Regions from separate parts of the Homo sapiens genome. Here regions 1, 3 and 4 are each linked to region 2. The links come from fine-mapping of genetic effects on gene expression. A gene starts in region 2. Each other region holds a variant in brackets. All regions are shown on one strand. Distances are from middle to middle.

Region 1 (8,203 bases), 44 kb after region 2:
TACTACAACTCACTAACATTTTTAATGGTTTTGCTCTTTTATAGTTACCAGACTGGGCTATTTACTTAAATAATGATTATTTACTCACCTTCATCCTCACTATCTTCTGCAGTTACATTGCCTTCACTGGTAATGGCTTCGTCATAACTATCCTCAGTCTGAGAGTCTGTAATTTCACCTTCCTCTGGTTCACTATCAGTCTCCATGATTTTCTCATCTTTAAATGATGTTGAATTAGAGATGTTTTCATGAAGAGGAGACTCTATAGTATTTCCACTAGTTGGAACAGTGACTTTGGGGGGACTATTTTTGTGATGAATGCCTATTTTGGCCTTCTTTTTCATATTTGCGAAATTTTCTTCCTCATTGCAGCTTGTATGTTCAACACTGAAGGCTTTTTGATCCTCTGAGTTCAAATCCTGGAGAAGGGTGGGTAGATACGAGGGAACAGGGGAGAATACTCTTAAACATCACTATCTTATAACATTACATCAAGTTTCAACGAATTCGTGAAGATATGTGTCAGTAAAATAACAATGGTTACAATCTGTTCCCCCTCTCCTTCTCACATTTCCTTTCTTGGTTAATGATATTACCATCTTCTTATTATCCAAATTAAAAATCCTATAGTTATCTCTGAGATCCCCTTAACCATATATAAAATTACGAAGTGCTACAGACTTTTCTCAAAATATATCCAAATCTGTCTCTCTATTCTCAATGTCTTAACATTCCTAGTTCAGGCCCTCATCACATACTGCCTGGACTATGGGATAGCCTAGACCAATGGTGTCCAATAAAAATGTAACACAAACCATATTTGTACTTTTACATTTTCTAGTAGCCACATTTAAAAAGTAAAATTATTAATGAGATAGTTTACATAGTCTGCAACATCCAGAGTGTATTTTACACTTAACAGCACATTTGAGTTTGGATTAGCAAAACTTCAAGTGCTCAACAGCCACATGGAGCTGCTGGCTACCTTACTGGATAGTGCAGGCCTAAAGAATACCTATTCTAAATTTTCTTTTTAAACTGGTAATCAATTAGCTAGTCAACACAAATAAAATACAGAATTAGCTTTACTTATGACATGAATTTAAAGATCCAAATGTACTCAATATGTAGCAAAATTGTAGTTTTGCTAAAATTTAGTACTTCAGATTCAGCTTGATAATACATAAAAGTTTAAAGTACAAATTAACTGTGACTATCTTATTCCAAAATTTTAACTTGCCTGGCATAAGTCTTTTATTATTTATTGTACATTTATAGTTGATATGCCTTATAATAAATGAACATTTTTTAATTAACAAAAATGATGTATTTTTATCATGTACAACATGAAGTTTTGAAATACGTACACAATGTACAGTGGTTAAATTGAGCTAATTAACATGTACATTACCTCAAATACTTATTTTTCTGTGGTAAGAAACTTAAAATTTGCTCTCAGCAGTTTGCAATAATACAACACATTGTTATTAACAATAGTCACCGTGTTATACAATGGTCAAATCTATCATTTCAGCCTTAGAAAAAGTAAATAATTATTTTCCATTTTTTTCCCTTGGTTTCTAACGCACTCTCACTTTTCTTTCTACCTCAGAGCAACATGAGGCGAATTCATATGCTCTTCTGTTATTTTATAAAATATGAGAGCATCTCACACACCTTTCTTTCTTTTTTTTTTTTTTTGAGACGGAGTCTCGCTCTGTCGCCCAGGCTGGAGTGCAGTGGCGCGATCTCGGCTCGCTCCAACCTCCACCTCCCAGGTTCAAGAGATTCTACTGCCTCAGCCTCCCGAGTAGCTGGGACTACAGGCATGCGCACCACCATACCCAGGTAATTTTTTTATTTTTAGTAGAGATGGGGTTTCACCATGTTGGCCAGACTGGTCTCGATCTCTTGACCTCATGATCCATCCACCTCACATACCTATCTTTGATAACAGCGTAAGTTCAGCTTGGAGACTGGCTAAACATTCACAGTGTGATAAATTATACACACTTCTAGCAATACAAATTCACCCAGAACAAGAACAAGGGCAAGGAGCTGAAAAACCATGAGGAGCTTTTACATTATAAAATTATAGCAAAAAAGTTCCCTATCTGTATATACTCTTAAAAAAGCAGTTTCCAATCTTGTATATTTATTACTTACTGAACAACATATGCAGGGAAAGCTATTTGCCAGTACAGAACATTAGATAGTCATTAAGTGAAAAGAAAGGAGGGCTTATTTATGGGCACTGAGGCACATATGTATATTTCAAATTATTTACTCCTATCTCCCCTACTGTCTTCCTTCCACATAACCTTCACCTACAAAAAGTGAGGCTCAAAAATATCTTTAAAAATAAAGAAAACAGATGAAGATACTCTCTTGGCCTCACAGGTACCTTTTAGAATCCTCAGGAAATTCTCAAAATTCCAACAGGATTTTTCTTAAAAGTTCTTGTCGAGTGCTCAATGGTGCCCAGGCTGGAGTGCAGTGGCGTGATCTCGGCTCACTACAACCTACACCTCCCAGCCGCCTGCCCTGGCCTCCCAAAGTGCCGAGATTGCAGCCTCTGCCCGGCCGCCACCCTGTCTGGGAAGTGAGGAGTGTCTCTGCCTGGCCGCCCATCGTCTGGGATGTGAGGAGCCCCTCTGCCTGGCTGCCCAGTCTGGAAAGTGAGGAGCGTCTCCGCCCGGCCGCCATCCCATCTAGGAAGTGAGGAGCGTCTCTTCCCAGCCGCCATCACATCTAGGAAGTGAGGAGCGTCTCTGCCCGGCCGCCCATTGTCTGAGATGTGGGGAGCGCCTCTGCCCCGCCGCCCCATCTGGGATGTGAGGAGCGCCTCTGCCCGGCCGAGACCCCGTCTGGGAGGTGACGAGCGTCTCTGCCCGGCCGCCCCGTCTGAGAAGTGAGGAGACCCTCTGCCTGGCAACCACCCCGTCTGAGAAGTGAGGAGCCCCTCCGCCCGGCAGCTGCCCACTCTGAGAAGTGAGGAGCCTCTCCGCCCGGCAGCCACCCCATCTGGGAAGTGAGGAGCGTCTCCGCCCGGCAGCCACCCCGTCCGGGAGGGAGGTGGGGGGGATCAGCCCCCCGCCCGGCCAGCCGCCCCATCCGGGAGGGAGGTGGGGGGTCAGCCCCCCCGCCCGGCCAGCCGTGCCATCCGGGGGGGGGGGGGTCAGCCCCCCGCCTGGCCAGCCGTGCCGTCCGGGAGGGAGGTGGGGGGGTCAGCCCCCCGCCCGGCCAGCCGCCCCGTCCGGGAGGGAGGTGGGGGGGTCAGCCCTCCGCCCGGCCAACCGCCCCGTCTGGGAGGTGAGGGGCGCCTCTGCCCGGCCGCCCCTACTGGGAAGTGAGGAGCCCCTCTGCCCGGCCAGCCGCCCCGTCCGGGAGGGAGGTGGGGGGGTCAGACCCCCGCCCGGCCAGCCGCCCTGTCCGGGAGGGAGGTGGGGGGGTCAGCCCTCCGCCCGGCCAGCCGCCCCGTCTGGGAGGTGAGGGGCGCCTCTGCCCGGCCGCCCCTACTGGGAAGTGAGGAGCCCCTCTGCCCAGCCAGCCGCCCCGTCCGGGAGGGAGGTGGGGGGGTCAGCCCCCCGCCCGGCCAGCCGCCCTGTCCGGGAGGGAGGTGGGGGGGTCAGCCCTCCGCCCGGCCAGCCGCCCCGTCTGGGAGGTGAGGGGCGCCTCTGCCCGGCCGCCCCTACTGGGAAGTGAGGAGCCCCTCTGCCCGGCCAGCCGCCCCGTCCGGGAGGGAGGTGGGGGGGTCGGCCCCCCGCCCGGCCAGCCGCCCCGTCCGGGAGGGAGGTGGGGGGGTCGGCCCCCCGCCCGGCCAGCCGCCCCGCCCGGGAGGGAGGTGGGGGTGTCGGCCCCCCGCCCGGCCAGCCGCCCCGCCCGGGAGGGAGGTGGGGGTGTCGGCCCCCCGCCCGGCCAGCCGCCCCGCCCGGGAGGGAGGTGGGGGGGTCAGCCCCCGCCCGGCCAGCCGCCCCGTCCGGGAGGGAGGTGGGGGGGGTCAGCCCCCCTGCCCGGCCAGCCGCCCCGTCCGGGAGGTGAGGGGCGCCTCTGCCCGGCCGCCCCTACTGGGAAGTGAGGAGCCCCTCTGCCCAGCCAGCCGCCCCGTCCGGGATGGAGGTGGGGGGGTCAGCCCCCCGCCCGGCCAGCCGCCACGTCCGGGAGGGAGGTGGGGGGGGGTCAGCCCCCCCGCCCGGCCAGCCGCCCCGTCCGGGAGGTGAGGGGCGCCTCTGCCCGGCCAGCCGCCCCGTCCGGGAGGGAGGTGGGGGGGGTCAGCCCCCCGCCCGGCCAGCCGCCCCGTCCGGGAGGGAGGTGGGGGGGGTCAGCCCCCCCGCCCAGCCAGCCGCCCTGTCCGGGAGGTGAGGGGCGCCTCTGCCCGGCCGCCCCTACTGGGAAGTGAGGAGCCCCTCTGCCCGGCCACCACCCCGTCTGGGAGGTGTGCCCAACAGCTCATTGAGAACGGGCCAGGATGACAATGGCGGCTTTGTGGAATAGAAAGGCGGGAAAGGTGGGGAAAAGATTGAGAAATCGGATGGTTGCCGTGTCTGTGTAGAAAGAAGTAGACATGGGAGACTTCATTTTGTTCTGCACTAAGAAAAATTCCTCTGCCTTGGGATCCTGTTGATCTGTGACCTTACCCCCAACCCTGTGCTCTCTGAAACATGTGCTGTGTCCACTCAGGGTTAAAAGGATTAAGGGTGGTGCAAGATGTGCTTTGTTAAACAGATGCTTGAAGGCAGCATGCTCGTTAAGAGTCATCACCACTCCCTAATCTCAAGTACCCAGGGACACAAACACTGCGGAAGGCCGCAGGGTCCTCTGCCTAGGAAAACCAGAGACCTTTGTTCACTTGTTTATCTGCTGACCTTCCCTCCACTATTGTCCCATGACCCTGCCAAATCCCCCTCTGTGAGAAACACCCAAGAATTATCAATAAAAAAATAAATTAAAAATAAATAAATAAATAAATAAATAAA[T/A]AAAAAAAGTTCTTGTCTTGGAATTCGCACATTTTCAAAGAAGAATGGCAAAGATGAGTAGTTATGGGAGCGAGGCTGGACCAAAATATCACAGAATGCTTTCCATGTCTATTCTCTAGTTTTTCAGGCAAGGCCATTTGAGGAGCCCTACATATTCTTCTTCTATTGTTAGGGAGAGGTGCTTTCACAACCTAGCCTTCTTCTTTTTTTTTTTTTTTTTTTTGAGATGGAGTCTCGCTCTGTTGCCCAGGCTGCAGTGTGGTGGTGCGATCCTGGCTCACTGCAACCTCCGCCTCCCAGGTTCAAGCGATTCTCCTGCCTCAGCCTCCCAAGCAGCTGGGATTACAGGCATCTGCCACCACACCTGGCTAATTTTTGTATTTTTAGTAGAGACGGGGATTCACCATGTTGGCCAGGCTGGTCTTGAACTCCTGACCTCAGGCAACCCGCCTGCCTCGGCCTCCCAAATTGCTGGGATTACAGGCATAAGCCATCACACCCGACCTACAACCTAGCCTTTCAAACAATCAAACCACTAGTAACAAGCACAAGCCATTAAAACAGAGATCTTGAAAGCAAACAGAAAACTGATTTTTAGTATTTTAGTCACATACTCTTCTATTCCTAAGTATTGTTCACAAAAAAATAGAACAGAAGCAAATCAAATAGGAGAACAGAAAAAATCTAACAGAATCCTAATTCCTTATGTGAACTTTACAATTTAGTATCAAGTAATTTTTCTTTGGTTAAGAAAAGAAAAACTGGCTGGCACAGTGGCTCACGCCTATAATCCCAGCACTTTGGGAGGCTGAGGTAGGCAGATCACTTGAGCTCAGGAGGTCGAGGATGCAGTGAGCCATGATGGCACCACTGCACTCAACCTGGGTGACAGAGCAAGACCCTGTCTCAAAAAAGAACAGGACAGGACAGAAGGACAGAACAGGACAGGACAGAAGGACAAGACAGGACAGAGATAGGACAGGAAAGGACAGGACAGGAAACCATGAGATAAAATTTCAAGAGTAAGATATCAAATAGTTGCCACAGTTCATAAAATATCAATAAAACAAACAAGCCTCCTTTATAACCTATAAACCACCAAACTTACCTGTTTAGAGAGTAGAAATAAAGAACACTGTTAACTTTTTATATTTTCCTTCTTTCAATTTAACATTGCATCATCATAAGCATTTTTGGGGTTCCCCTTAGTCTTTACAAGTACCATCTGAAAGCCTACATAATACTTTTTTAAATTAAATGTAACTATCGCTTTCTTAACCATTGTCTTGCAGGCCATTTAAACTATTAATCCTAATAAATATGTTATCTCACTCCACAGTTGTCAGCAATGGATTTTTTTTTTTTTTTTAATATTTTCCTGGCCGGGTGCGGTGGCTCATGCCTGTAATCTCAGCACTTTGGGAGGCAGAGGCAGGAGGATCAGCTGAGGTCAGGAGTTCGAGACGAGCCTGACCACATGGAGAAGCCCCGTCTCTACTAAGATTACAAAAAAATTAGCCAGACGTGTTGGTGCATGCCTGTAATCCCAGCTACTCGGGAGGCTGAGGCAGGAGAATCACTTGAACCTGGGAGGCGGAGGTTGCGGTGAGCTGAGATCACGCCATTGCATTCCAGCCCGGGCAACAAGAGTGAAACTCTGTCTCAAAAAAAAAAAAAAAAATTGTCCTAGTAAGTAAAAAATTGCTCCACATAACTAAGAAAGTTGAACCTGTATCTATGTCTACCTATAAACTGTGTTTATCTTTTATTATGAACTGTGCATTGACATCAACTTATCAACTGAGGATCTGAATTCTTCTTCCAAACTATATACGAGATATTTTATCTGACCTTAATCTATCTCCTTCAAATTTTAAGAAATGCTTTCTATTTCTAGTGACAGAGTTTATGAAAAAGTCCATGTTTGCTCCATCTAAACTTTCCTAGGTTATCTTAATGGGTATGTTTGAAATGCAGAGTTATTGAATGATTGTCAGTTTCATAAAAAATTTTGTCTTAATTATCATGTTATCACCATTATGTCAATTTTTAAAATTGTAAAGACATTACCTTTTCCTCATTTGTTGCAGAAGAATCTGGATCTTTTCTTTTCTTCTTCAATTTTTTATCTTTACTTTGTTTTGTGCTAGAAGTCGGATAAGGTTGCAAATCTACTCGAGAATGAAACTGATAACGACCACTTTCCACATCACAATAGTAATAAATTCCAGTGGAAGGATCATAATAGAGTTGATTTTCCTTTGAAAGTCAAGAAAAAAATAAATTCTATTCATGTAAGATAAAATAAACTTAACGAAAATGCCAAATACATTCAAATGTGGTAAATATTTCTTTGAACAACTATAGTATTTTCAGAAGACAATGAATTAAAGATAACAATAAAAAATGCTTTAATCTTCCAAAATACTTTACCATTCAATAACTGATCTAATTTTCCTAGTGTGAGAAACAAGTAAATCTAAATATTAAATTTAATCATATAAAATTGTCAATACTTGACCACTTTTAACTTATAAGAAACAGCAATTTCATATGGTTCCACTTAATACATTAAAAAAATTGATAATACTTTTAAAGGCATGAAAACTAAAGCAAGCATAAGAAAAAGCTGACCATATGAGCGCAATTCTAGACTCCTGATTCTTAATGACTGCACAATAATGGTGTGGCAGTATAAACCCCTAAACCCTCCTCTCAATGTCATAAAACAAAGATTTGTCTTTTGATGTTCATAACTTAAAATTAGAGAAGAAAATTTTGAAAATAAAGTTCATGCATACCAAAAAATAACATTCTATAAAATGCAATCAATAAACTGTCTCCACTAATTAATCAGTTCTATAGTAAATAAGACTTACAAGCAACCATGCATAAATGAATTTGGCAAATTACAGATTTAAAAACCAGAAAGATAAAATTAGGTAATCACCTATATTTATGATATACTGGCCAGTACTCTAAAACCAAATTTAATTGAACAGTCTATATTTTATTTACATCCTAAATCCATGCAGACCAGACCCGGAAACATCTTTAATGTACTGAGATTGAGCAACTAAAACTTCCTGAAAAAGAATAATTTATTTTTCTAACTATTGACACTTGCAATTTATTGTCTTTAATCCATGCATTTTGCAGATCTCTTACAAAAAATATTTAGATTTCTCACCATCTTTCTCTTAACTAAGAAACTGAGTGGAGGCTTT
Region 2 (8,203 bases):
GGATGACTATTATCAAAAAGTCAAAAGACAGCAAGTATTGGTGAAGATTAGAGAAATGGGGATGCTTGTACCCTATTGGTGGAAATGTCAATTGGTGCAGCCATTATTGAAAATAGTATAGAGAGGTTCCTCAAAAAATTAAAAATAGAACTACCATATGATCCACTAATACTACTATTGGGTATATTTCCAAAAGAAATAAAAATACTATCTCCAAGAAGTATCTGCAGTCCCATGTTAATTGCAGCATTATTTACAGAAGCCAAAAGATATGGTAACAATCTAAGTGTCCATCAACTGATGAATAAAAAAAGAAACTGTGGTGTGTATTCACACATACACACACACACACACACGGATATTATTCAGCCTTAAAGAAAAAGGAACTCTTACCATTTGCAACAACATGGATGTCTTAGAGAAGAGTATGCTAAGTGAAATAAGCCAGACACAGAAAGACAAATACTGCATGATCTCATATATATGTGGAATCTTAGAAATTAAAGTCAAACTCATAGAAAAAAAATCTTCTCTTCGGCTGGGTGCGGTGGCTCACGCCTGTAATCCCAGCACTTTGGGAGGTTGAGGCGGGTGTATCACAAGGTCAGGAGATCGAGACCATACTGGCTAACACAGTGAAACCCCGTCTCTACTAAAAATACAAAAAAATTAATGGGTGTGGTGGCGGGCGCCTGTAGTTCCCTTAGTCCCAGCTACTCAGAAGGCTGAGGCAGGAGAATGGCATGAATAAAAACACTAGCTCCACACAAGCTCCCGGGAGGCGGAGCTTGCAGTGAGCCGAGATCGTGCCACTGCACTCCAGCCTGGGCGACAGAGCAAGACTCCGTCTCAAAAAAAAGAAAAAAAGAAAAAAATCTTCTCTTTGGAAATACAGTCACCCTTCCGTGTTATCAAAAACTAGAACTTATTCCATCTTATCTGTTTGCTTGTACCCATTCACCAACCTGTCTTCACTCCCCCACCTCTACACCCTTCTGCTCTCTACCTCCATGAGATCAACTTCTTTAGCTCCCACATATGAGTGTGAACATGTGATTTTTGCCTTTCTGTGTCTGATTTATTTCACTTAACAAGATGGCCTCTAGTTCCCTGCATGTTGCTGCAAATGACAGGATTTCATTCTTTTTTATGGCTGAATAGTGTTCCATTGTGTATATATATCATATTTTCTTTACTGATCTGTTGATAGACTTTGGTTGATTTTGTATCTTGGCTATTGTGAATAGTGTGGCTATAAACGGGAGTACAAGAATCCCTTTGATACACTGATTTCCTTTCCTTTGGATAAATAACCAGTGGTGGAATTGATGGATCATATGATAGTTCTATCTTTAGTTTTCTGAGAAGCCGCCATACTGTTTTCCATAATGGGTGTATGGCTATACATTCCCACCAACAGTGTACTCATTACTTTTCTTTTTATCAGATGTCCGTAGCTGTAAGTGTCCTTTGGGCCAGAAGAAAAGTAGTAACCTAATAGTTGGCCTTCACATTGCAAAATTATCCCTTTGAACAGCAATCCCCAACCTTTTTGGCACCAGGGACTGGTTTCGTGGAAGACAATTTTTCCATGGACAGGGGTGGGGAATAGGTTTGGGATGATTCAAGCGCATCATATTTATTGTGCACTTTATTTCTATTATTATTACATTGTAATATATAATGAAATAGTTATACAACTCACCGTAATGTAGAATCAGTGGGAGCCCTGAGTTTGTTTTCCTGCAATTAGACAGGCCCGTCTGGGGGTGACAGGAGATAGTGACAGATCATCAGGCATTAGATTCTCACAAGGGGCACACAACCTAGATCCCTTGAATGTGCACAGTTCACAATTGTGCTCCTATGAGAATCTAATGCCCCAGCTGATGTGACAGGAGGTGGAGCTCAGGCGGCAATGCTAGTCATGGGGAGCGGATGTAAATACAGATGAAGCTTCCCTCATTTGCTTGCCCCTTACTCAACTCCTGCTGTGCCACCAGGTTCCTAACAGGGTACAAAGGGTACTGGTTCATGGCCCGGGGTTGGGGACCTCTGCCTTTGAAGATACCCAACCAGTTTCTTCCTCCAAAACCATTATTGGAATGGTGGATTGTATTATTGTACCCAGTTATTTCTTGTTCTTCTTTTAAGGATATTATTCAGCTCACTTATTGTTGATAGGGACAGTAGACAGGGAACTACTGGGTAGAATAAGGCCGTTCCCTGGCAAAGGCCCCACCCTCAAGCCTGGAAACCCATGGCCCTAAATGAAGAGAGGCATTCCCGTTCTTGTGCCCAAAAGTTACCTTTTGGCCCTCCATGACCCCCTATCCTGTACCCGTATAAACTCCAGACACCAGGCTCCAGCAGCAAAAGATGAGCAGATGAACAGAAGAGCAGAAGAGCAGAAGAGCCGCAGATAAAGAGAAAAGAGAAGGAATATTGGGTGGAGTTCAGCTGGGGACAGTTAGAGAATCCACCGCTGGACGGTTAAACTCCAGGGGAAGATCATCTCCCTACTCCACCCCCTTTCCAGCTCCCCATCCATCCTACTGAGTGCCACCCCTACCACCTAATAAACACCCCCAACCTTCCCCCAACTCCTCTACCCCCGCCCCCACCCCGGCACTCACCATCCTTCAAGTCCATGTGTGACCTGATTCTTCTGGGAGGTGAGACAAGAGCTGAGATACAGAAACTGTCACACTGACCCTCTGCGCTTGCAAAAAGGCAGAGGGTCTATTGAGCTGGTTAACACTTAAGCCGTCAGCTGATGGTAAGGCTAAAAGAGCACACTGTAACACACGCCCATTTGGGCTCCGGGAATCACGGGATCCTGCCCCTGGACACTGCCGTGGGGCTGGAAGCCCAGCGCCCCAGCTTTTGCACCCTGGCTCCTGCACCCGTCCGTCTGCATGCTCCACCTCCCATAAGGGGTTTCAGCAGGCAGAGACCGAACACACGAGCCACAACCCTGTTGCACGTCCTGCAAAGGGCTGTGGGAGGGCGGGGGCCGGGAGGAAATCAGGGAACTCTCCTGTTTCATTGTCACAAGACTTGCAAGGCTTCCTTAAGAGAGGGGTACACTTCCCCACCCACTGACAGCAAGTTTTGACCAATAGAAAGTGAGCAGAACTGAGGCATGCGGAATGTGAGTTTGGAAAGCAGCTTGTGCCAGTCATGTACAGGAGCTAATTGTTAAATTTCCAGGAACTTGGCAAGCCACTTGTTGGACTGTTTGTAGCTTGAAATCGGCCATTGTGGGAGCATTTACATCATAGAAATAGCAAACACTACATATCTGGACTTCCCCCTTCTCCCTCAAAGTTGGTTTACCAGCCCAGCAGGGAGCATGGCCCAGAAAAGTTGACCTTTCAGCCTGGAGTGAAGAAAACTGGTGGAGTACTGCCAAAGCTCCCTGCAGCCACAGTAATTCGCTTGAGAAATGGACCTTTAAGCCACTGAGTTGCAGGGGTTGTTCGTTACCTGAGCATCATCTAGCCAAAGCTGGTACACCATGCTGGTGTTTTGGTGAACACCAATAAGCGCCGCCTTCATCTGTCCCAACCTAGGTTGGAGGGATTTCTTCCAATAACTTGTGACATCATGCGCCTACAGCCTGCAAAGATGCAAACCGCGCTCTGAGACTCAGGCCCGGGAATTCAGGTCTTGGAAGGTTAATGCAAAGTTGTAAAACAATAGTTACATTTCAACCACACTCAGCTATTGCGTCATCTTAAAACCCTGGCCAACACAAATCTGTCGCTCGCGATCCTTGGCGGTTTCAGAGCGACTCCCCTACCGCTTTCGGGCGAAGGCCACACGTGACGGCCCCCCTTTCCCCGCAGACGTGTGAATGCAGCGCTGTGTCTTTAAGGGGCACGCGCGGAGGTTTTCCGTCCGGGACAAAATGTCAGCGAGGCGCCTGGAGGGGGATCTACCATCTCGGACTCCCGACCCGCCGCCGGCTCCGGCCGCGTTTCCCGGGTAAAGGGGTGAGTGTGGGCTTCCAGACTCGGTGGCGAGGCGGGCTGGGCCGGGCAGCGGGGAGCGCAGGTGAGCAGCGACCGCGGACGCCCCTGCCGGCCTCCCTGGCACCCGCGCGGGGCGTGCCCTTCGCTGGGCTGCCCTTCTCCGGGCCGGCTGTCGCGACTGTGAGAAAGCAGGTGGGCCCGGGATTCTGTGGCAAGGCCCCGCTCACCGTCTTCCAGTGCCTCATTCTTGCTCCTTCCCTGCACTCCTCTTTCGACAAGCTTGTTCGGAATGTGGAAATTCGTCACCACTCTCCTGCTCTCCCTTTATTAAAGTTGTCTGATTACAGTCTTTTCACTGGGCAAGTGACTGGACGCCCTGCAGTGGGTTCTTTCTGTAACTGGGACTTGCTTGATGTCGCCCACTTTCGGAGGGAGAAAGCGAATGCAAGCCAAAAGCTTACACCAGAATCCCCACCCCTCCCCCACCCCTCATGGCCCCCAAACAAAAGAATTTTCCGCTCCTTTCGGAGTCCGCTGGAGCAGTTTCTGTGATTTCTTGCACGAACCAAATGCCCGAGGCTTAGCAAAGCAAAAACCCCCTTGAAGGAAAAAAATAAATACTTACCACTAGTCGAATTTCTAATGAGCCAAGACTACAAAGATAAGGTGTTTAAGAGAAACAGTTGTAGAAACAGCTTAATACATTGACCTAATTAGGGTAATTATTTTCTGCTGTTTTTATTCATATGCTGACACCTTTTGGAGGCAAGAATAGCTTGAGGCAGCCAAGAATAAAAAAAAAAGTAGACAGCAATACGTATTATAAAAAGACCAAAAGCCCAAGCCAGGTAATTCTCAATTTAAAAATTAAATTAAAAAAATCTTTGAGTCACAAAGGCCTTCAAAGTAGGGCAGCTTTAAATTCCTATAACTCAGATTAAATTATGCATTTTTACAAGATAAAATGGATCACCACCTTAATCTTTAGGACCATATCTATTAAGCAAAGTAATGCAGACCTGAAATAAAGGTCCACTTTAAGGGCAGAACACTTCACAATTTTCATTTTTAAAAGTGCATTAATAGAGAGAGAGAGTGCTTCTCTGCCTTTTAGCTAATGGTAGAAATATCTAAGAGTTTGGCTTATGCCATTTAGGAAACAACTCTGATTCACCCCTTAATTACCTGTGAGTCCAGTGTATTTTTTACAGTCCACATATAACCTTTTTCTAAATTTTTACACATTTTACCATTTATTCCCCAACTCAGGTTTTACAGTTTGGAGGCATTTTTACTTGTCTTTTAACTTCAGCTAAGCCTTCAGCCTGGTGATTCCAGACTAATTTTTCTAATTGTCTGGATCTCTTTATAAATAGATTAATATATGGCAGTAAACTAATATTTCAACAGAGATGGACGGATAACAGATGAACTGTGGTTTTCTTGACACTTCAGTTGTCAACTCTAATTACTTGTATTAATTATTATGCTCTGCTTTCATTAAAGTCACTGGTGGATGAAGTAAAAGAAAATGTTTTTAGTGTTTCCACATATGTCTGTGTGAATTTCACGTTAGTGTGAATTTCTCATCTAAGATCCAGGCTCAACCAACATATATTGATTTAAACTCTGCCTGGTCAACCCAACTACAGTAAGTAGCCTTGAGTATAGAAGGACAAATAGAGGTGTAGTTAATCTGCTATGTCCTTTTGAGAACAGTGCCTGGTTCTTTGGCCTTTAGCCTGCCAAATATTTTTTATGTGCACAAGCATAAGTATAAAATAATACAATCAACTTTTGTAGGTGCTTTATAGGATGAGTCTCAATATTATAGTCATACCTTGTGTATATGCCCATGTTTATACAGATTATTCATCCAGGTTTTGATCTCTTCCTTTATTCTTTATATTGGTATTCAGGGACATCATACTGAGGAATCTGGGATTTAATCTGATAGTTCATCAGAAGGATAGAACTTCTTCAGAAATTGAGTCAAATGGAGAGATAATTAATGTGAATTTATTGTCTTCCACAGGCTTAGATTTAAGAACTCCTTCCAAATAATGGATACTCAAATGAAACTCAGCTATAGCAAGTGCAGAGGCATGGTACCAGCAACACTACTCTCTCTCCTTCCTTGAAATATCTAAAATCTACATTTGTCTTTTCAGTTTTTTTCACCCTGAAATTACACTCAAAAATTTCCACTGTTAATTTCATGTTAGCAGTGCTTTTATTTAGCTTCAAGAAACTTTCTTTTAAAATAGGAGCTTGGAAGCCTCGTTATACAACTGAGGAACTGGAACTTCATTAGAGTCGAGTACTAAGGGTAATGTGTTTTGGTGATGGACAACAATGCGTTTGTGCCCTGTGGGGCATGGGAGGGGAAGGGATGCTGAACTGCATGAACTTTTGTGTTAGGGCCCCTAAGACATCAGCTCCCAGGAGCTGCCCATGCCCACCCCTTCCCCAGTGGAGATTATGTGACGGAATTCACCCGAAGGAGTGAGCACTGATTTCACCTTTACCACAGTGTGTTAGTAATCTGTTTTCGCGCTGCTGATAAAGACATACCCAAGACTGGGCAATTTATAAAAGAAAGACGTTTAATGGACTTAAAGTTCCACGTGGCTAGGGAGGCCTAACAGTCATGGCGGAAGGCGGAAGGCGAAAGGCACTTCTTACCTGGCTGCGGCATGAGCTATAATGAGGGTCAAGCGAAAAGGGCTTCTCGTTTATAAAACCATCAGATCTCGTGAGATTTATTCACTAGCACAAGAACAGTATGGGAGAAACCGCGCTCGTGATTCAATTATCTCTCACCAGTTCCATCCCACAACACGTGGGAATTATGGGAGTAGGATTCAGGATGAGATTTGGGTGGGGACACAGCCAAACCATATCACACAGGTATCAGAATTATTGTTGGAAGCATCTCTTTCCCAACCAGACCGTACGCTTCCTGAGGGCAAAGACTATGTGACGTTCCTCTTGGAATGCTTGGCAGAAAGCACGCACCTGACCTTAGCAGGTGCACAATGAGCATTTGAATGAGAGTTGGATGGAGTGAATGGATGTAAGCAAAATACTCATTCATTGGCATCTTTGTGTTAGTTTAAAAATTTTTTCAAGGAAAAATTAAGGGAGCTTTTTTCATTTTCTTATTAGCTAACCACAGAATTAATGATATGCATTCTCATTGGGTATTTGGTAAGGAAGAAACGCGTTATCACAGGGCTTTGGCTAATTAAACCTCCCCATTATCTTATTTTACCCTAGTGATAAATAACCTATTTTGCATGAAGTTCAATTTAGGAAGTGAAAATAAATTTAAGGGGTAAGGGTCTTGGATCTGTTACTCTTTTTTATTTGCTCTTTGTAGTCAATTCCCAAGGGGATTCCTCCAACTTAGACTACTTACTCTGTTGAATAACATAATGTCAGATGGAAAAACAACTGCCTTTTAGCCATTAAAATCTTAACGTGGGCATGTCTGAGCAGTAAATATCGGTAGTTTCTTTATTGTTCATGTCTTAAATTTATATAACACCGGAGAGTCCAACAGTGACATCATTTGCACTATCTATGATCTCAGCCACCTGTTTAGAGGCAAATAATCTTATTATTTCTCTTGACAGATGGGAAGATTGAGACTCGGGTGGGCTGGGGCTAAAGAAACAGAGTCAGGTTCACTTCACTTAATGCAGCATCCCCCAAGTGTCTACCCTGTGCCAGGGAGATGAATGGGATGAGCTCCTCTTCCATGACATCCTGGGTGTGAACACAGAATCTCCTTCTGCAGAGCACAGCAAACCACGTGACAATGAGCAGCCTCACATGCTGGGTTTCCTCCTCCAAGCGGCGCAGCAGTGGGCTTCCCCATGGGACTGTCCCACCAGCCTCCACAGTTAAGGCTGGGCTGGCCCTGCCTGAGCTCACATGCTTGAGGAGCCAAGGGTTGTTTTGCTTTTTTGTTTTTGTTTTTTGTTTTTCTGAGATGGAGTTTCGCTCTTACTACCCAGGCTGGAGTACAATCGTGCAATCTCGGCTCACTGCAACCTCCGCCTCCCAGGTTCAAGCGATTCTCCTGCCTCAGCCTCCCGAGTAGCTGGGACTACAGGCACCCACCACCACGCCTAGCTAATTTTTTGTATTTTTAGTAGAGACGGGGTTTCACCATGTTGGCCAGGCTGGTCTTGAACTCCTGACCTCAGGTGATCTACCTG
Region 3 (8,203 bases), 20 kb after region 2:
AGATGTCTGGGCAGGCAGTTATTATTCTCAGGTAGAGGAGATACATAATTGAACAAGGGGCTGCAGCCTCAATGAGGTCTGTTGTCTACATACCCAGAACTCTCAAACACATGACTAAAAAGATTTTGAAAGCACAGTTTATAAGATTCCCCTAAATAGATCTGGTTTAGAAACAGTCTGAGAACATTAAGAAAAAAGCCCCAAATCCTTCCCGCGTCACACACTCCACCCAAATTTTTGCTTTAAAATGTTGGCTTTAAGACTTTGGAATGAACAGAAACTATTTTGGATTAATACTCTCTGGAACTATCAAGGCCTGCATGTATTACTTGGGCCTTACATTCTGCCAAATCCTATCTAAAAATAAATGTAAGCTCCATGAAGGCAGGGAGCCTTGACTGTTTTATTCACTGTTGTATCCCTAGTGCCTAGAACAGTGCCTGGCCTATGCTACGTGCTTCATGGCTATTTGCTGAATTAATGTATGCTGTTGAAAGATTTTTACATATGGGGACCGGAAATCTACTTCTTGGAATTCTCCCTGTAGCTCTCATGCTCCCATAGAGTACTGAGAGCCAGGGTTGCCTGGCTACATCTCCCTATCATTCCTCCAGACGACTCCATTTCCAAAGTCATGTAGAATCCATTCCTCCTCCTTTAAGGATGATGAGAGTCACCTACAATAACTTCTGTCCTTTCTCACTATTGTCTACCAATCTCCTCCTCATTCTCCAATATTCACTTAGAAAGCCAGCTCCTGACTCAGTCTTCTTGTCCACATCTATCTCCTATTGCCTTGTGGAATGAGGATGACCCATCCACTACTTGCTAGCCTCATTCCTCATCCTACCTGACTTCCATAACCACCATCTCTACTCTGGGATTCTACTCCTACAACCATGTCCTTGGTATTGCTAGCATGGATAATAACAATGCTAATAATCACTAATATTTGGAGGCTTATTATGCACCAGACAGTGTGCTCAGTGCCACACAAACCTTATCTCATTTAATCTTCACCAAAACTTGAAACCACCTTTGCAAAAATTATGACAGTGAAAGAGATTTGACCTAACTGACTCCGTCTTGCTTCTATCCTCCACGCTGTCCTTGTTCATTCCTCGGCAAAGACCAAACTAACTTTTAGAGGAACTTAGTTTATATTTTAACTTTAAAACAAAGATGATAACAACCCTTTCTTGAAATAAACCCCCTTCTTGCTTGGGGACCAGACTGCCTTTGTAAGACTAACAAATTAGCCTCAAGATTAGAAATTATTGTTTAGGAGTTATGCAACCAGAGGCCATAAGATTTGAACCTCTCCAATTGCTCCTAGGGATAAAATCACTATTGTAAAACCTAAGATTGGTGGTTGAGATATCTTTCAGACCCTGCATTCTGATGCACCAGCTGGAGCCACCCAGACTGATAATCTGGCTCAACCAGTCCTGGCTCACCCAGGAACAGAAGACAGCAAGAAGAACCCACTTTGACCCCCTATGATTTCAACTCCGACCAAACCCATCAGTACTCCCCACTATCCTAGCCCCCATCTGCCAAATTATCCTTAAAAAAAAAACCCAGTCTCCACATTTTCAGGGAGACCAATTTGAGTAATAAAACTCATCTCCCACTTAGCCAGCTCTGCATGAATTAAACTCTTTCTCTATTGCAATTCCCCTGTCTTGATAAATCGGCTTTATCTGGGCAGCAGGCAAGGCGAACCCGATGGGCAGTTACAAACTCCATAGAAGACACTTGGGTAGAGAGGTTCAAATAAATTTTTAAAGGTCACTCAGCTTGGAAGTGGTAGAATTTTAATTTAAACTCAGCTCAGTCAGACTCTTCAGCCTGTGCTCTTAATCATCCCTGTGGGATGGAAAGAATCAAGATAGAAACCTCAGCCCTGCCACTTCTGTCACACCGGCTTTTTGACTTTGAGCAAAATAAAAACCTCTTAAGCCTCAGTTTTCTAATTCATAAAATGGTGTCCAGAATAAAGAATGTATGTTAAGGGCCTAGCACAGTGCCAGATGCAACACAAATGTGCATTCCATCCATTCCACCAACAAATGCTTATTGAGGACCTCCCAAACATCCAATCCTGTGCTAGGTGCTGAAGACAGAGCAGTGAATAAGACAAAGAAGGTTCCTGCCTTCCAAGATGTGCACAGCATTTGGTGGATGCTCAATAAATATTTGAACAAACTCTCAAAGAGGTCAACCTACACTCAAGATTTCCAGTCACCACTCTGCCTTTCAATCAACCATAGTTATTCTGCTATAAAGCAATCTAATGAGGTTCCTTTCCTGCTTAAAATCCTTCAGTGGATTCCTCATTGTCTCACAGATAAAATCCTTCATTTCTTAATTATGTAAATTTCTCAACACAATATGCGGTTTTGGCTACAGGTAAGAGGCTCGGTTTTGTTCACCCCTTCTTTGTTATGCAATCAAACCTATCTGGAAGCTTGAACTGCAAATCAGATGAATGTAGACCTATTGTAGTTAATGAGCCTGAGAACTGGAGTCACCACAGTTTGGCATCCTAAACTCTCCCCACCTCATCACACAAACATAGACTCACACAGCTGCAGCTCCTAAGGCAATGCAATGGGTTCTTTGAAAAGGTTTGAAAATCTGATTGTAGGACACAGCCCATTAGTGCATTATGAAAGCAATTTAGTGGATGCAATCAGTGATGTGGAAAACGAGTGTATTACATGAGCTTATGGCAAAGTACTGGTATACAAAATCTATGTTACATATGCTATGAACATGCTCGTGTACTGAACTGTAATACAAATTGTATTCACATTGTAGATCATCATCAAAATAGTTTGAAAGCCATTGTTGTAGATCCTCTATGTAGCCTCAGTTCCCATGTTTCTTCAGTCACAGCTTGATAAGACTCCATCAAGCCACTTGCAGTTACCCATTGTGTGCTTCAGTGCCTATGGTTGTATAAACCAGATGTGGTGCTAGGCTCTACGGATGCAATAGTAAGCATACCCAAGGTCCTGCTCACATGGCACTTAACAATCTAGAGAAACTGAGAAATATTACACTAACCACACTAATATGTAACTGTGAACCAAGCTAAGTGGTCTAAATGAAAGAAATGGTTTTTCAAAATACTTATCAAAGGCAATTAATCTAGTCCAGGGCTTCAAAGGAGGCATCCCTGAAGATTCAATCAGCAGAGACCTGAAGACTATGTGAGAATTAACTATGTAAAATGGGGGAGGAAGAGCATTCCATACATGTAATACAATGTTAAGAGGCTCTGTGATGAGAGAAGGCAGCTGTGTTTGACAAACTGAAAAAGGGGCCAGCATGCTAGGGCCCAGAGAACAAGTAGGAAAGTGACAAAAGATGAGACCAGGAAAGCTGGCAGTGGCCAGATCCCTTAGGGTTTTATGGGCCTGGAGTTTGTTTTATGGCCTCAAAGTAATGGGAAGCCAAACAGGAGACGATGAGATGGAAGTTGTCTGCAGTGTGGAAGATGGAGGAAAGAATGCCTGCAGGAAGACCAGTTAGGAAGCCCTCAGAATAATTTTGGTGACTGGTAACAGTGAACTGATTTAATATATTGGAAACAGACAAAGGGGAGAAAAGCTAGTGGTTGTGAAACAGAGGCTGACTCAGGCTTCTG[A/G]CTCACACAACTGGATGGATGGTGTTACCAGCTGGAGAGAGTAAACTAGAAGAGACTAGGTTTGGAGAAGATTATGGAGTTAGTCTTGGAGTTGCATTTAAAGTGACTCTGAGATGGATATGTAAGTCATAAGCTCAGAATCAATAACCTAAGACAGCCTAGAAGTCATGAGTTTATAGATGGTAAGTGAAACTGGGTATATATGTGAGAAAAATGCCTGGGTTTGAGCCATGAAGGCTTAACCACAAATTTAACCACTTCTGGGTAAATTCTTACCACAAGTGTGTATATACATACACATTAACCACACACCTGTTTACTTTTTAAAAGTTCAAATATAGAAATAATAAAATGTGAAAGTCTGCTCACTCTGGGTTATCAGCAACTCAATACACACCTTTGTAATTTAAAAATAAAAATGGGATTATGCCATATATACTTTGCTACAATCTGCTTTGTGAGATATTCTTCTACACTAGGGTATACACAGTTCTATCTTATTCATTTCAATGGCCAGAAAGTATTACATAGTAGGGATGCATCACAATTTAAGCAACCCTGTAGTCCCCACTGATGGACAAGTACGTTATCTGGCAGTTACCTCTACCTGCCCATTCAACATCCACTGCCCCCTTCTGCTTGGTTCACTGAACCTATTTCATTCCAACGGCAACATTCTCAGCTGCAGGTGATGGTTCATGACTGGCTTAAGCCAAATGTGACCATCTTGTTACCCACTTTTATAGCATCTCTTCTATGGGTAGCCATGCTATCTGGTTCTGGCTAATGACCCTAAGAAGTCAGTTTCTGAGTAAGCTGTTGTTTTCCTAAAAAAAGAGAACTAACACTACACTCTGCTCTTTCTTCTTTCTTCTTGCTTTAGGTATGAATATGATGTCTGAAATTTCAAAAGCCATTTTGCAACTACAAGGCCATAAGCCAACACTAAGATTAGTAAAACAGAAAAGCAGAAGAGATAGCCTGGGCCCTGAAACACACAGAAATATAAGTAACCACTGCCTCATTTTAAAGAATCAAAATCCATTTCCACTTTAAAGGCTGAAAAAGTAAAATGAAATGTTTGAATCAAAGATTCAGAGCAGAAATATAAGTTATGCCCTAATAAAAGAAGCACACTTACAACAAGATGGTGGGGAAAATACTTTCAACTGTTCCTGAGACTGCCTTTGAGTTTTGGGTCCACAAGTGCTTTCTTGCCCCCTGCCAAGGACATCCCTCTGTCCTGCAACTTTACAGAATGGCCTTCGTATGCAATCTCCAACGTCTCTTGCTTTCCCTTGTTTGAGATTTCTATCTTCTTTGCCTGCTCTTTAAAAATATGTCAAATTAAGAAATAATCTTTTGGACAGGCATGGTGGCTCACGCACGCCTGTAATCCCAGCACTTTGGGAGGCTGAGGCAGGCAGATCACCTGAGGTCAGGAGTTGGAGTCCAGCCTGGCCAACATGGTGAAACCCCATCTCTACTAAAAATACAAACATTAGCCAGGCATGTTGGCATGCACCTGTAATCCAGCTACTTGGGAGGCTGAGGCACGAAAATCGCTTGAACCCAGGAGGTTGAGGTTGCAGTGAGCTGAGATTGCACCACTGCATTCTAGTCTGGGCAACAGAGCAAGATTCTGTCTCAAAAAAATAAATAAATAAAAATCATAAAAAATTAAAAATATTCTATGGAAAGTCAGAAGGTTTTTGATTTGCGTAAACCATTACGTTCTATAAATGCAGGATAAAAATGACACATCAGAAGTAACACTTGTTTCAAAAGCAGAAAAAAGTTCCTCTTTTTGAGGATAAGGGTGCTTCCTCTATTTAATACTGGAAAAAATTTCTATTTTACTCTAATGTTGAAAGTTTCTTCTGTTCTCAACTTTGCCAGCTTATGTTCTGGCAAAAATATTAGATGTTAGATTTCTTAAAATTCAGAACTTGCAGCTCCACTTAAAATACATACTTAAACGCTACTCAGAAAATGTGTAGTGTGATTAAACAAATATTTAAAATTAGACACAAAAAATTTATGCAAAATTCAAACTGTATATAATTCACATTTATGCTTCTAAACAAATAGAAGCTCACATCTGTACTACTTTTACAATTTACAAAGTGCTTTTATATACATTTTCTCATTTGCTATTCATGACAGACACGTGAGACAAATATTCTTATTTTACAGATGGAAATAGACCCAGACATTATTCAGTACTTTAACCACTAATAGTGGAACCCTGAGACTTTAGATCTGCAAAGGGGTTTAATAATGCAAATATCACATATATTTCCATTTTTAACACCATATTTAAGTTTTCCATTTTCTTAATAGAAAATGATAAAAAATGTTTTCCCCAATATAATAATACAAATGGAAAATATTATAGACAGTCATATACTAACCCAATGACCAAGATTCACCAGAAGCAAAACCTATTTGGAGGGGTCCTATATTGTTACATATATACAGGGCACCAGCACCAGAACCACATTTAGACTAATACTTTTTATTTCTAATTAAAAGAAAACAATGCAGGGCACTCCTGCAGCCTGCAAGTCTAACTGTACATACGTATGTGTCAGACTATGCAGGTGGCCAAGAAGAATGCAAAGAGATATTTTATCCAAATTTGGAGTTTAGGGCCTGATTGTCCTAGCTTAAGCCCATAGGAACCTGACAACTCGTTCATACCTCTCATCTTTAGTCATAGTTTCTCCTTCTCCATCCCCTTTTCTCCGTAACTACCCTGTGCCATTTAGACTGGAAATTCTAACAGGTAGCTTTTTCTTTCTGAATTATCTTTACTACTGTATAATTTTTATTTTCAGAATATTCCTTATTTCTACATCTCGAAGACATTTCTTTATAGTAGATGGGGGAGCTAGAGCTTACATTCACTGCCAGAAAAGGGTCAGTTCCAGTGTTAATTTCCCAGCAAACACCTGAGAGAAAAACTGAACAGAAAAAGAATAGTGATAGGTGGCAGAGCAGTGACACCTGTGCCCAGAAAGCCGCACTGCAATTGTCTAATATTTGAGGCTCTCCTTTGTTATAACTCTGCCAATTTAAACTAGAAAATTCTGGCTGCTTGAAAATTCAAAGCAGATCAATACATTTAAATCACCGGTTCAAAAAATCACTCTTTTTCATGTTATAATGTTTTTATTGCAATTGAGGATGTTTTCAATAAGTATCTTGAGCTTGAGGCCCTGGCTAAGTATTCCTTTTGTACTAGAAATCAGATTTCTCTGGCACAATTCCATTGCCTGCAATGGTCTTTATCAAAACTACAAAAGCCAGCACACTATTTCAATATGTATTCAGTTGTTCATATCTAAATACCTCATTAGCTATGAAACAAACCAAATATAAATGCTGAATATACAGTACATAGCAACAGATTCTTCACAGAAGAAAACAATGAAAGACTAATTTTCTACAATATGTTACCTGTTCATTAGTTCTTCAATAACATTACTTAGGCTATTTCAAGGATAACAAAATGTATGCGCCACTACCCATGTTTTCGCAACATTTTTTACCTAGGTTCTAAAGGGAATAAATGAGGATGCATATAGTCAGATTTATTTTTATAAACTTCTGATGTTTCTTTTGTTGTGCATCTTACATGAATATATGGAGACAAGAACAGATGTACACTTAAGTCATTAGTAGTTCTATGAATTTTGCTTATATGGCTAGTTGCTTATATGGATGTTGTAAATGACAAGATAAAATAACGAAGTTTGATAAACTCATCCGTGCCCTGTGAACTTTAGTCTATTTACTGCATAAATTGGTTCAGTCACTATTTATTAGTTTTAAAAAAATGGTTTTTAAAAGCTGCAAACCATACACATTTCTGAATCAGGAAGAGGTAAACTGTGACATAGTTCCCCTGTGCTGCTGATTCTTTTGGGGAGAAAAAATAAGTTTCCAAATTCTATTTTTAAAAAAACTAGAGGTTTTTTTTCTATGATTAGCCTTCACTCTAAAGTCCCTTTTACCCAAGGCATGGTCCCTGGGTCATCTTTTTGAGGCTTAGTTTCTGGGAAGTTTTCAGTAAACCGCTCTCGTGCTTTGTCCCAGTTTTTTTTGTTCTTGTTTTGGAGAAGGTGAACATCTTCAAATGAGGATGGTTTGCCTGTCCCCAAGCCTGCATGTGTTCGCCGAAGCTGAAGCTGGATCTGTTACCAAAAGTTGAGCAGAGGACTTATTTTAGAGTCTAAACACATTGAAATCTGCTGTGTCCAACTTAGGACTCTACAATTTTTTGATTTATTAAAGATTGATGCAAAAGAAAAACCTGTCAGATGCATCAAATACATACAGGAATATATATACCTTTATACATGGAACTTACATTCATTTTTCTATGTTGTCTTGCCTTGTCAATAAGTACAGCCTACTTTACAGAAAATAGAGTGCTCCTTAACTAGCAATCACCAAATTTCATTTAGATGCTGCAGAGTATGTCATTCCACCCTAACCAGAAATAAAGGCAATGGATATGTTTAAACCCACTGTCCTATCCTT
Region 4 (8,203 bases), 56 kb after region 2:
AAACTTAATAGGAAAGATGATTTCTTCTTGTGACACATATATATTAAAACTCAGTATCTCAGCTATTTTGCCTTATAACATAATGCCATTCATAAGGCCATGGTGGTGGGCTCACCATTCCCACAAGGGTGAGAGACTGATACTATACATAATTCTAATTAGAACACATCAACAAGAAAACAAATGCCCCTGGTCACAAGGAAGGCAGATATGGAAGTAGATGGCTAACTGCCTGCCAAAAATTACTCAGTGAGTGTGCCACTGAAAACATTAGCAACATTATAGAAATCACAGGAATGACAATACATTTCTACTTTTTCCTCCAGAAGAACAAATTGATTATCCGAAAATACCATTATCATATGGAGAGACGTCAACAGTATTAACAATTCTCATTTACCTTGATCTTTGTTTATTTTAAATTAAAAGAAAACGCAACATTAGCATGATTTGAATGTAACAGTGTTAGCATATCCTCACTATAAGCTAAATACCTGAGATTGACCAAGGAGCATGGTTCTCTGTTTGTACTTCTACATCAGACTTTTTATTATCTTCATTTCTCCCACGTTGGAGTATTTTACTGAGTTCTTCCACCTGAGAGAAAACAAGGCTTTAGGAAAAAGAAATCATGTAACAATCTAATAATATATATACCAGTCTCCTACCGTTACAAATAATTGTTTTAGAGAAATGTCAAGAGCAGCAAGTTTCCCTTTCAGAAAAGCTAAAATTATTATTTTACTTTATACATTTAAAAGGCATTTTTATTCCTAATCTCTCTTACTAAATGTCCAAATATCTCCTCCAAAAATCGAACTAAATAATGAGACTTTGTGAACAAGGTCCTTTATTTCTAACAAATAAGAATGCTTTTATGTTAACATTTTAAAGTCAGTTCTAAAGAATTCAAAAATTCAAAATTTACAAATTCTCATCCCTACTGGATTATCTAATACTCATTTGGTATTCTCCACTGGGAATTAACTATCCACCTGAATATGTTAATGCCACTTACAAGCTTTAATACATTTTTTCATTAAACAGTAGTCCTATAATTAAGTAACTGTAGCAGAAGAGAACAGGGAAGGTGACGGCCTGAGAGGGGCATCTGTCCTCCATGTACTTCACACACTAAAATACCCTTAAAAGGATGCTACTACATAGGACAGAGAGAAACAAGTGTGTGGAAGTGCCCAAAAGCAAGTAACATGCTGCCTCGGTCAATACGCTGCCTCAGTCAATACACCTCAGCCTGAGAGGACCTCAATGTGAGACAATGTCTACTACACACAAGAAACCAACTAAAAAACAAGCTTTTAAATATTTATTTAATGATACATAAAGCTTAAACAGAGAAAGGTGATAAAACTGATCTGTTGCTAATACTAGGGCAGGAACTACAGTGAGGGAAGCAAGACACTGATCGTGAAAAATCTGAGGCGCTCCTCTGATTCATGCAAGTACAGAGTTCATCGCTGGGAATTAGTGCCCCATTAAATTCCTCGCCCTAGGAGCCTGATTGCCTTGCCCTAAATCCTGGCTCTGGCTACTGTCCCTATCACTATGAATTAGATTACTTAGTATCTACTACATGCTGGGCACTATACTTGATGCTTTAGATAACATCTCATTAATTCACAAAACCACCTGAAATATTCGTTGTCCTAACCCCAATTTTACACATAAAATATCAGACAAGACAAAGTAATTTGCACAAGGCTATTTTGGGGTCTTGTACAAACCCTATACATATTATGGTTCTCCAGTTATCATTCTCAAGCAAAACTTTTTAACTGCTCCAAATAAAACACATTCAGTAATTTGGAATGACAGTTAATCGAATCCACCCTCTCCCCAACCAAGGGAGGCTGACTAGGAGAGTAAGGAGTTATCACTATTCAAAGTAGAGTCAAGACTTTCTATGAGATTAAATTTTTAATATTGGACTAAAATGGAGGCATGTGGAGGACAGATGATCCTCTCAGGCAATTACCTTCTGTTCGCTTCTGCTGCAGTTTAGTCACAGAACTACTATTTTTTTAAAGTGTATTAAAGCTTATAAGAGGCATTAACATTTAATAACTAAATCCACGTGAACATTGAATGATATTAGATAACATGAATGGGAATTGATAGCTCTTAAATTTTCTAATTCTTTAGGGAGAATTGCTGACCTCTCAAAATATTAGCATAAAAACATTCTTTTCTGTAAGAAATAAAGGATCTGTTCACAAAGTCCCATCATTTAGTCTGATTTATCAAATTAACAGTAACACCAAAATGCTGGCTCTCTGAAGATTAGCAAAAAACGTTTTCTTTTAGAATCTCTAACGCAAGCAGTACTTCAACAATTTAGAATTATAAAGGAGCTTTTCAAAAGGCTGTCATGTAAAAAAGGCTGTTATATTTTGCTCCCGTCTCCCCATTTTTTTTTTTTTTTTTTTTTTTGAGACGGAGTCTTGCTTTGTCGCCCAGGCTGGAGTGCAGTGGCGCAATCTCGGCTCACTGCAAGCTCCGCCTCCCGGGTTCACGCCATTCTCCTGCCTCAGCCTGTAGCTGGGACTACAGGCGCCCGCCACCACGCTCGGCTAATTTTTTTTGTATTTTTACTAGAGACAGGGTTTTACTGTGTTAGCCAGGATGGTCTCGATCTTCTGACCTCGTGATTCGCCCGCCTCGGCCTCCCAAAGTGCTAGGATTACAGGCGTGAGCCACCGCGCCCAGCCACCTCTCCCTGTTTTTTTTTTTTTTTTTTTTTTACCATATTTGTATTTTCCTAGCATAGTTATTACACACCGTAGGTGTTTAAATTGACTAAACAAAAACTTTCCAATAATGTCATGTCAGGAACTCCATGTAATGGTCATACAAAGTCATTGCAACTCAACAGTTATTTTCATAGTCCATTTGGTAACAAAACAAAGAAGTCTGATGACGTTTCAGTGTTCAGCCTATATACTGGTTTTAGGAAACCACCAATAAATTATGAAGGACTAGACAACGGTCAAATTGAAACTAGTTACTATGTGGAAATAATCTGTTGGCAGAGAGGGCCTGCCAACAAGGTAGAAAAAAATACTATGCTCTTGGTTTTTTGGTTTTTATTTTGAGACAGAGTTGCACTCTGTCGCCCTGGCTGGAGTGCAGTGGCACGATCTCGGCTCACTGCAACCTCCACCACCTAGGTTCAAGCAATTCTCCTGCCTCAGCCTCCCGACTAGCTGCGATTCCAGGTGCCCGCCGCCACGCCCGGCTAATTTTTGTATTTAGTAGAGACGCCCGGCTAAATTTTGTATTTCACCATGCTGGCCAGACTGCTCTCGAACTCCTGACCTGGTGATCTGCCCGCCTCGGCCTCCCAAAGTGCTGGGATTACAGGCGTGAGCTACCGCGTCCAGCCAAGGTTGTTTTTAATGTGACAGTTTAAGTATTAACATTTGCCCCTACCATCTTGGAAACGAAATAAGCTGCTTAACGTCTCCAACAAAAGCAGTTATATATCGTCCCTACTTACACAAGAAAGCCGAAGATGATAAACGCCCAGAAGAGCAACCTTAAACAGGTATAGCATTCAAAAGTTTGTAAAATTGTTTGTTTTACTTCACCTTTACTACTGTGAGCTATCATTCTCATTTAATGGGGAACTGAGACTCGGTATATAAGTTCACACACCCAGTGAATAGCAGAGATGGGATTCTGACTCAAGTCCAGCATTTTAATAAACTCAAATGTGATCTACAGTAAATGCGCCTACTGCCAATGGGATGTTAGGTCAAGTGAGAATGAAGACAATGTAGCCACAGTACTTAAGTTCAATTCACGCCAGCCGCGAGACATTGATTTAAATCAAGTAACCTGAACTCAGGTTTGCTCCTAAGGTACTTGGAATTGT[A/TA]ACTGCGCTGAGCTTCTACTTATTTACTTTAAGTACTCTACAGTAGTTCTGAGCCCCTGCCAGGGACCCCTTCCGAGGCTATCACGGGCTTCGAAGGCCTCGCCTGGGCTGGATGGGGCGCGGGGCTGAGGAGGACCGCGCACCTGCGTGCGGAGCTCCTGGTTGTTGCTTTCTGCGTTCTGGTACAGCCGTTCTGTGTGATGCAGCAGCTTCTCGATCTCCCGCACCTGCCGCTTGCAGCTCCGCAGTTCACGTTCCAACTTCTCCACCTTCCGCCTTAGCTGGGCCAGCTCAGGCTCGGGGGAGGTGGGCGGCGGCGGCGACCGCGGCGGGGACGGCGCCTCCGAGGCCATGAGCTCCGGCGCGAGACTGCTCGTCGCCGCGGAGGGGCTGCGTTCAGGCCGAAACGGACGCCGGCGGACCCAGAGACCACTGGAGCGCGCGGGCAGCGAAAGGCAGCCTCACACCCGGCTGGCCGCGGTGGCCCCTGGCCATGACGCCCTGAAACTCACTTGTAGCCGAACGGGGCTGCGAGCAACGAGCAAGGGGACCGAGGATGGCCCCTGCCCGATGTGCGCGGCCTGCAAACCGGAAAACTTTCCTGGAAACTACCTTCTCCAGCTACAGAGACAGAGGGAGGAGCGTCGGATAAGCAGTCGGAAAACCAGAGGCCAGAAGAGCTCCAGCAGCTCCCCAGTTGAGCCGGAAACAACGGCGCCAGCGGCAGGCGGGACCAAGACGGAACAGGAAGCGACGGAAAGCGGGAAGACCTGACAGTGTACGTGCCGACGTCTCGGCCTGCGGAGGGGCGTTACCTGAGGGCGTGGAGAGCTGTGGCAATGTGGCTACCGAAGCCCTAAGAGCGACAGGGAGGCTTGCAGCCTCTGGTCTCAGACATTTGCACGTGCGGATGTTCTTTGAACAAACTTTTAGTATAGCATGCATTTCCTATCTCCTTGTTTTACAAATAAGAACAGAGTATCCCAGAAATGATTTGTGGGGACTATGATGCTCTACTTATGTCAACTGAAGAATGAGGAGGTTAATAAATTTAGAAAAGGGCTTTATTTCTCATGAAGGGTTACAGCCTGCAGGGTGGCCTTTCTGACAGGCTTGGAAGCATAGCCTCTGGTCAGAAGCTGAGAACAGACACTTGGAAGGAAGGACAAAGGGAACAGAAATTTATGCTGAGCAGGGTGGCCAAATATATTCAATGAGCTGTAGGAGGATTCATGAATATTTATGAAAGGAGAAATATGCACATGCACAATTAAGCTTCCTGCCTCTCTATGGGACCCATATTCAAAAAATGGTGGTGTTAGCATGATCCCAGTGTGAAGTTTTCAGCCCTCTGATGTCAAATGGCAAAGCAGAGGACATGAAAACCCTCGCTGTGAGTCCCTGGTAGATTGGCCAGAACTTCTCTGTGGTTGGTGGTCTCTTATCAGGAAGGAATGCTGGTTGGTGTGAAATCAGCCCAACTGTCCTATAGAACTGATGTTTATGGTTTCTTTTGAATAAACCTGGAAATTTACCCTCCCAGTCTTAAAACTTCAGAAAGTTACATCTTTCTTATCTGAGTTCCTTTCTTGGGAAACCAACCATGAGGCCTCCCAGATAGTATCAAGGAATTGAAACTTACCAGATCACTGCATCTGGACAATGAGGCACCATACCCCTCACCCATCATGATTGCCTAACCAGCCACCTGCTGCCTGTTGAACAAGTCCTCATCCTTACCGCTCACTAATTCCTGTTTTCTCACATGTAGTCACATTTCTCCCTTGCCATATAAACCTCTAATTTTAGTTGGTTGAGGAGATGGATTTGAGACTGATTTCCTATTCTCCTTGGCTGCAGCACCCAAATAGAACCTTCTTCCCTGGCAATACTCCTTGTCTCAATGACTGGCTTTCTATGTAGTGAACAATGGGTCTATTCAGTCAGTTCAGGGGCTCAGAATTTTACTTTTATTTCTCATTTAGTCATTCTTCTGGTTCCTGAGTTTAGACCCCCCGGGAAAATAGAGCAAGTACATTAGGTCTGAGTCGCAAAAAGGAGCATCCCTGGTGGGAAAATAAGAGAGAGACAATATTCTGTGGAAAAGGGGAGAAAAATGCTCTGGTTTGGTGCATTTATTTGGTCTTTTGTCTGCATGACCCTGGCATTGGTTTGCCAATATTTAAACTGATGTGGCCTTCTTTGGAACACACTTCCTTCCTTTGCCAAAGTCATTTAGAATTAGATCATGAGCTCAGAGTCCTGGGCCTGAGATTTGTGGAGGTCAGCAGCTGTGTCATGCAGATGCTCCTCTCTCAGGGCCCAGCACAGTGCCTGTCGCAGAGCAGTATCCGTAAATGCTGAACACAGCTGAACAAGAGAATCCTGTTTGGTGTCTTAGATCAGTGGCCACTTCCATTAACTATATTTTCTTATTTTTTGTATTCTTGATGCTCTGGCATCTGGGGTCTCCCTGACCAGGGAGATAACCCCTCCAAGGGTTAGCTAATTCCTAGACATAGCAAACAACTCACCCAGCATGCCACACACTGATCATCTACCTTCTTTATCAGGCTGTTACACTCCATGCCAATATTCCCCTGCCCTAATCACTCCAGGGCAAAGTACCAGACAACTAGGAACAACTCCTACATCTCAGATCCCACTGAAATTATGCAAACTAAACCTGCTTATCCTGATTTGTCCATTCCTTCCTGCAAAAATCACATAATGTTTTTTGCCATGTTTCCTCCCACTCCTTCTGCCTCCTTTGGACCTTGGTGCTTCTCCACATTGCCTTGTGTGGCTTGGTGTGCATCCTCCTCTTGGGCTGGGTGAATAATAAACTGTCTTTTTGATAGCAGACCATCTCCTGATCTGTTGGCCTCACCATACATAAATAATAATAAAATCTAAATTTTAAAATATGGCTCTGTATGTATTTTTGTCTTGTGCACTGCCCACTAGATTATTCATAAACAGTGAGCTTTCCAGCAGAGACCTGCCCTCTCTAGGGCCTGTACACATTCCTCCTTAGGCCTGAAGAGTTCTTCACAAGGCACTGTATCTGGAAACATAGAGATTCTACCTTATTGTCATGTCAAGAGTAACCTTAAGCCATCAAAGGAAGTTTAGTGAGAAGACATGGTATGTCCCCTGTGATGCAAAAAAAAAGATGTATTGCAAAAAATTTCTGACTTCCCTTGATGCATTATGACTCCATTAATGAACATATTGAAGTCCTTTTAAAAAGATGCTATTTTCTACTTTCTCCACCTATTTTCTTTAGGGGATAAGAAATTCCATAAATACCATTTGAAAGGTATCTTTAAGATGATATTTCAGTTTTTAGTAATTAACTGGAGAAAAAATAAATAAGCTTATTGACTGCTACTTGAAGCAGTGCTCCTCTTATTTGTCTTAATCTGTTCAAGGCTAAGTTATCTTTACCTTGTAATACCAGTCTGTATCCTACCTCTGACCATTAGAAAAGAATGACATTTTTTTAGAAAAAGCCTTGAATATCAGGAATTGCATTAAGGTGCTAGTATCAGAGGTGGTCTATAGTGGCTTATTAAACAAATTAGGGTGTTATCCTGTTACATTACAGAAGCCTAGAGAGGGGCAGTCCATGGCCAGTGACTCCACAGTTCTTCAGGGACCCAGGCTCGGTATGTCTTTCTGCTCTGCTATTCTCGGAGCATGTTTCCAGAGCCTCCAGGTCGATCCATGGTGCAAGATGGCAAGGGATGAAAGGACTTTCCCAAAGCCCCACTCAATGGTTCCTGTCTACCTATCAATAGCCACCCCTTGCTGCAAGTGGGGCTGGGAATTATGTGTATATGTGTGTTTTTCTAAGCTAGACGCATTATTCTCCTAATAATATAGGGGTTCTACAAGTAAGGAAGAAGGGCAAAATTCATGTTGAGTATGTAAATAGCAGTCTTTGCCACACCTAGTTTTCAGATCTAAGAGGTACTTAGCATAGTGGGCAGAGGCGCTGCCCTAAAAAAGCATTCTACTTGACACCCTTCACGATTTGATTTTGTTTTGTAATGTTTTTTTCCCACATCCTCTCCAATAAATGATATGAACCATTTTTTGTACTTTTTGCCATTATGAATATAATGAGCTATTTCCTTGCTGTTTTAATTGATACTCCTCTGATTACTAGAGAATCTCATACATTTGTTGAAATGTATATATGTTGAAATGGCTATATGTCCTTTCCTTTCTGTGAATTGCCTATCCATATCTTTTTGCCCATTTCTTTCTTGTTATTTTGCAGTTCTTTATATAAACAAGGTA

Direction of the effects. Alleles are on the strand shown, and positions count from the first base shown. SD is a standard deviation of normalised expression in the study named. Not every link is listed here.
In carriers of allele A in region 1, the expression in monocytes of the gene that starts at base 3,824 in region 2 tends to be lower than with T alone (moderate effect, 0.50 SD a copy in Fairfax 2014).

Evidence for each region. PIP is the estimated chance that this variant, and not a neighbour inherited with it, causes the effect.
Region 1: its variant is fine-mapped to the expression of ZBED3 in monocytes (Fairfax 2014, PIP 0.95).
Region 3: its variant is fine-mapped to the expression of ZBED3 in blood mononuclear cells (TOPMed, PIP above 0.99). The same link has a PIP of 0.9 or more in monocytes and whole blood.
Region 4: its variant is fine-mapped to the expression of ZBED3 in whole blood (TOPMed, PIP above 0.99).

The regions. Positions count from the first base shown.
Region 1 is chr5:77,038,563-77,046,765 of GRCh38, reverse strand. It overlaps AGGF1 (angiogenic factor with G-patch and FHA domains 1), which reads right to left. Exons shown (of 14, transcript NM_018046.5): 5 at 7,047-7,235; 6 at 89-419. Among named protein-coding and RNA genes, the nearest start is that of AGGF1, 12 kb to the right of the region's middle. The variant T/A (reference allele first, on the strand shown) is at 4,977.
Region 2 is chr5:77,082,906-77,091,108 of GRCh38, reverse strand. It overlaps ZBED3 (zinc finger BED-type containing 3), which reads left to right and starts at 3,824. Exons shown (of 3, transcript NM_032367.4): 1 at 3,824-3,998. It overlaps ZBED3-AS1 (ZBED3 antisense RNA 1), which reads right to left and starts at 4,394. Exons shown (of 3, transcript NR_182763.1): 1 at 3,490-4,394. It also overlaps a transcript of PDE8B not described here. RefSeq lists enhancers at 2,361-2,961, 2,962-3,564, 3,565-4,166 and a silencer at 3,983-4,152.
Region 3 is chr5:77,062,703-77,070,905 of GRCh38, reverse strand. AGGF1 (angiogenic factor with G-patch and FHA domains 1) reads right to left here. Exons shown (of 14, transcript NM_018046.5): 14 at 5,672-7,854. The coding sequence ends at 7,654. Among named protein-coding and RNA genes, the nearest start is that of SNORA47, 14 kb to the left of the region's middle. The variant A/G (reference allele first, on the strand shown) is at 3,656.
Region 4 is chr5:77,026,812-77,035,014 of GRCh38, reverse strand. It overlaps AGGF1 (angiogenic factor with G-patch and FHA domains 1), which reads right to left and starts at 4,611. Exons shown (of 14, transcript NM_018046.5): 1 at 4,039-4,611; 2 at 495-597. The coding sequence starts at 4,248. RefSeq lists enhancers at 3,794-4,373, 4,385-4,734, 4,374-4,953. The variant A/TA (reference allele first, on the strand shown) is at 3,896.